Regions from separate parts of the Homo sapiens genome. Here region 2 is linked to region 1. Evidence: fine-mapped expression QTL. Tissue or cell type: atrial appendage. Region 1 holds a variant in brackets; the other region holds the start of a gene. All regions are shown on one strand. Distances are between the middles of the regions.

Region 1 (2,687 bases):
AGGAAGCAGCTCATATAATTCAAGGACATGATCTGATTAAGATGATAAGAGAGGTATGAGTTGCCTTGGGAATTTTAAAGTCAGAGGAAATCACTTCATTTGAGGGATCAGAAACAGGCCTTTGAGGACCAGTGGGATCGACAGGCTAATCTGTGGGCACACCTCAGGCCAAGGTTATATCCTGAGTAAAAACAAACAAGCAAACCAAAAGAGACAATGGGGCATTTTGTGGAAAATATGAAGGGTCCTGAGTGGCTTAATCATAGGGAATATTGGGGGTTGAGTCTAGAAACCCAAGTAAGGATCATATTGTAGGAGACCTTAAATGTCAAGGCGAGGAAGAAATTTACTCTGGTGGCTTTTTTCACTGGTTTCTGCCCTGCTGACCTCCCTTTCCAACAACTAACTTTTGTCCGCCTTGCTTCTCTCTTAGGTGCCTTTCTCTCTCCCTTCGCTCCTTGTTTTTGTTTTAATTATTATTATTATACTTTAAGTTCTAGGGTACACGTGCACAACGTGCAGGTTTGTTACATAGGTATACATGTGCCATGTTGGTTTGCTGCACCCATCAACTCGTCACTTACATTAGGTATTTCTCCTAATGCTATCTCTCCCCCAGCCCCGCCAACCCCTGACAGGCCCCAGTGTGTGATGTTCCCTGCCCTGTGTCCAAGCATTCTCATATCGCTCCTTGTTTTTTTTAATAATTCTTATTTTCCACTTCAATTTAACCCACTGCAAGCTGGTTCCTGTACCCAACTTCTGAAATTACTCCTGCTGAGATCTCTGTACATCTCAGAGTTCTTGGTTGCAAAGAACTGAACCAGCTCTGGCTAGAGGAAGCAGAAATGGGATTTTCTAGGGAAGGGTGCAAATGGCTCCCAAGATTGAAAGGAAGGCTGGAAAAGAAAGCTTAGAAAACAGAAAGGAACCAGGAAATATCCGACAGCCCAGGACCAGCCACCAGAACAAGCTACTTAGGTCTTCATTGCTGTTGCATCCTCTCGCTGCACCTCTGCCTTGACTGGTCTGACTGCCCCAACTCTTTGCATCACTCTTCCAAGAGTCAAAGTCCTCCATGGCAGCATCCACTGGTTGAGCTTGGATCAAGGGGTCTGGCTTCTCATTCAGAAAAAAAGAAGTATTTACCCTCACCTCAGATTCTTTTTTTTTTTTTTTTTTGAGATGGAGTCTTGCTCTGTCACCCAGGCTGGAGTACAGTGGTGCCATCTCGGCTCACTGCAAGCTCTACCTCCCAGGTTCATGCCATTCTCCTGCCTCAGCCTCCCCAGTAGCTGGGACTACAGGTGCCTGCCACCACACCCGGCTAATTTTTTTTGTATTTTTAGTAGAGATGGGGTTTCACCGTGTTAGCCAGGATGGTCTCGATCTCCGGACCTCGTGATCCGCCCGCCTCAGCCTCCCAAAGTCCTGGGATTACAGGCATGAGCCACCGTGCCCGGCTACCTCTCAGATTCTTAGTGAGAGGCAGAGTCCCCCAAATAGTGAAATATTTGAATGAGTACAAACTCACCCAACTGCTGAGCCAAATAACCTCTTTTCAGCCTTTATCCCACTTTATCCCTGCATCGTTCCTCACCATCAGCATCCAAACCTTCACCTCTCACCTT[CTTAAAA/C]TTATCTCTTCCAAGCTTGGTGTGGTGGATCCCACCTGTAATCCCAACACTTTGAGAGGCTGAAGCAGGAGAATTGCTTGAGCCCAGGACTTCAAGACCAGCCTGGGCAACATAGTGAGACCCCCCCTCTCTCCCAAAAATAATTTTAAAATTAGCCTGGCATGGTGACATACACCTGTAGTCTCAGCTACTTCAGGAGGCTAAGGCAGAGGATAGCTTGAGCTCAGGAGGTCAAGGTTGCAGTGAGCCATGATCCTGCCACTGCACTCCAGTCTGAGTGACAAAGGGAGACCCTGTCTCAGAATAATAATAAAATAAAATTCTTTCTTCCTTCAGCATCCAGGACATGGCTTTTTTCCTGGTTCTTTTTTTTTTTTTACTTCTGGCCACTCCTTCTTCTCTATTTGCTCCTGAAACTTTGAGTCTCCAAAACTCCTTCCTTGGTACATGCTCATTTGAAACACTCCCTTGGGTAATTACATTCATTTCCTTTGCTTCAAATGTGACCCTCAATCTTTTGCTCCAACCTGGACTTTCACTATGAGTCTCAGTCCCATGGGCACCTCAATATTAACATGTCCAAATGGAACTTTAATGGAACTTTAATCTCCATCCCTGCAGGCCTGCTCCCCTTTCTGACCCTAAGTCACAGCTGACCCAGCTAAAAATTCAGTCATCCTGAGTCCCCACGCATGTATATTAGTCACCAAAGTCTCTTCACTCTACCTCAAAATTATCCTTTACTTACTAAAGTATGTTAAAAGTCTCTTGACTCTACCATCTTGCTTCTCAATTAGCTTAGACCTTTATGATCTCAGGAGGAGAGTGGTAGTAGGCGGGGTTGAGATGGGGTGGATGCAGGAATAACTAAGAAGATAAAGGATGCAAAGGTGGATTGTGGAGAGGGAGAGGACAGAATTTAGGGTGATCCCAGGTTTCTGGCCTGAGCAACTAGATGGACCAAAAGAAAACTGTGAGACTTTAGAAGAGCATCTAGTTTGGTAGTTCAGTGTTGAATATGTTATGTTAAAATGGGACAACCAGATGCAA
Region 2 (2,687 bases), 220 kb after region 1:
ATATTTTATAATATATTCCATAATTAATCGCTCCGTATTAAACTTGCTGATGCAGGTCTCCAATTACTGAAAAACCTGATACCAAGTTTTTCAATGGGATTTTTTTGTTTGTTTAAGAGATGGGGTCTCACCATGTTGCTCAGGCTGGCCTTGAACTCCTGGGCTCAAGTGATCCTCCAGCCTCAGCCTCTCAAAGGCTGGGACTACAGGCATGTAGCACTTTGCCTGACTCAAGGGGAATTTTTAGTAAGAGTATATAATCCAAGTCTGTAGCAGTTGGAGGATGTCGTACCACGCTGAAGTGTCACACATAACTGATGACTCAGTCCCCCAAGCCTATTTTATCATCGTAAAGAAAGCTATTTCTTTGATTATTCCAACTCTTTCAGCACCAGGACTGCTGCAGGGGCTGGATTCATGCTACCTGTAGTTGCAGTGTAAATTATGTGTCAGAGCCAAGATCCTAGGAAAGTCAAAGACTAGGTTACAAGAGCGATTCTTTTTTTTTTTTTTTTTTTTTTTTTTTGAGACAGAGTCTTGCTCTGTCGCCCAGGCTGGAGTGCAGTGGCACAGTCTTGGCTCACTGCAACCTCCGCCTCCCTGGTTCACGCCATTCTCCTGCCTTAGCCTCCCGAGTAGCTGGGACTACAGGCGCCCGCCACCACGCCCGGCTAATTTTTTGTGTTTTTAGTAGAGACGGGGTTTCACCGTGTTAGCCAGGATGGTCTCGATCTCCTGACCTTGTGATCCGCCCGCCTCGGCCTCCCAAAGTGCTGGGATTACAGGCTTGAGCCACCGCGCCCGGCCAAGGACGATTCTTTCTAATCTTTGGTAAGCCAGTTTTTACAGAATGAAATGCTCTTGGATTGACTGACTTGATTGGGTAAGTATTCATTGGGCTCTTGTTCCATGCAAGGGCAGTCTACAAGGGCCTAGATATGGGGGCCCCCAAAGAAGAAAAATCGGTTTTTCATCATATTTTCTGGTTGAGTTTCTTCCTTTATTATATTTGTTACATATGTTATTAAATTATTTCCATAAAAGAGGTTATGCTGAGCAGGTAACCAAATTCTTGTTCCCCCAAAAGACATGTATAATTCAGACGATTTATGCAATTAGAAGAAGGGAGACTTCATCAGTTAATAAAGTCTAGAACGTGAGGAAGCCCAGTCATTTCCAGGACCTTCAGATGCCCAAGCTGGATCCAGGTTTTCCACCCCGACAGCTCCAGGGAGCACGCTGGAGAGACAGACTTCACCAGCGGGAAGGCGCGGCACCCTACGCGCAAGGAACCTCAAGTCCCAGAATCCTATGAGGACTCCAAATCCCAGAAACCTGCACGCAAATCTATCCCGGGTGCCAAGTCGGCCGACCGCAGACGTGACCAAGTTGCGAGGCTAGGGTGAGGTGTCGTAGAATTTGTCCCTACCATTGTCCCTGCAGGGAAGAGACTTTAGTGATCTAGAGCTGGTCATTGTCTCTTTCACAGCTCGCGTGAAAGCACCCCTCTCGGCGTGTTTGATGCCATGATCAGCGTCTCCCATTCCCTCTGTCCCCTTTCTCTGCCCCCGTAAGGATGGTTCAGCCCGGTATTGAGGCTCCTTGAGCTGGCTGGATGGTTGCGCCCGCCCTACCCCGGAATGTGGGCCTTTGGAGCGAGCGAAGTGGGAGGGACCGACGCAGGAGGTGTCTTGGGCCCGGGCGGCTGTAGAGGCGGCGGCGCCTACGGGCAGTGGGAGGAGCCGCGCGGTTCCGGCTGCTCCGGCGAGGCGACCCTTGGGTCGGCGCTGCGGGCGAGGTGGGCAGGTAGGTGGGCGGACGGCCGCGGTTCTCCGGCAAGCGCAGGCGGCGGAGTCCCCCACGGCGCCCGAAGCGCCCCCCCGCACCCCCGGCCTCCAGCGTTGAGGCGGGGGAGTGAGGAGATGCCGACCCAGAGGGACAGCAGCACCATGTCCCACACGGTCGCAGGCGGCGGCAGCGGGGACCATTCCCACCAGGTCCGGGTGAAAGCCTACTACCGCGGGTGAGTGTCCTGGGACAGGGCGGTGGGCGGGAGGGGACAGGCCGGCTCCACTCGGCCTGGAGGAGGGGAGGGTGAGGGGCTGGAGGTGTTGTGGGCGGATTGGGCTGGGCGGGCGGGCGGCTCCGGTGACTCAGGGTGAGTGACGAAGTGATAGGGGTGGGGGCGAAGCAAGGGGATGCAGTACTGGGGGCGCCCCCAGGTATGGCGGTGCGGGGAGCCGAGGGGCCAGAGTAGGGTCCGAGAAGGAAGCTAGGGTTAGAGTAGGTGCACCTGGTGTGGACGAGAGACTCGCCTCCTGAGAGCTTTGTAGGGGCCTTGCATCCTTAAGTCTGGGTGTATTTGGGGTTGCGAGTTGAGGATTCCAAGTGATGCCTTAGTTAACTCAGTTTGCTGTGGGGATAGAAAACGGGACTTCTTCAGTTAGCTGTCCGTTTTGATTACCAGCAGGCCTAACGCCTCTGGTTCTCTGAGATATACCTCCATCCCCGTTGTGTTCACGTAGTGTATCTGCACTGCCAGTATATTAGACATAGGGGTTGTATTTAAGAATCAAGTCGATGCGTTTTCAGGGACGTGCAGTGGGTACTTACGTGTCGTCAAGATTAAGTTGCATGTGTGTAAATCAAAATTTTGTGAGCCTTTCTTTCTCAGTGTTGTTTCAACG

The links. PIP is the estimated chance that this variant, and not a neighbour inherited with it, causes the effect.
Region 2: PRKCI starts here. The variant in region 1 is fine-mapped to the expression of PRKCI in atrial appendage (GTEx, PIP 0.99).

The regions. Positions count from the first base shown.
Region 1 is chr3:170,004,092-170,006,778 of GRCh38, forward strand. No RefSeq gene overlaps it. Among named protein-coding and RNA genes, the nearest start is that of GPR160, 33 kb to the right of the region's middle. The variant CTTAAAA/C (reference allele first, on the strand shown) is at 1,632.
Region 2 is chr3:170,220,748-170,223,434 of GRCh38, forward strand. PRKCI (protein kinase C iota) reads left to right here and starts at 1,677. Exons shown (of 18, transcript NM_002740.6): 1 at 1,677-2,023. The coding sequence starts at 1,923. RefSeq lists enhancers at 1,208-1,267, 1,338-1,397, 1,408-1,567 and a silencer at 1,748-2,037.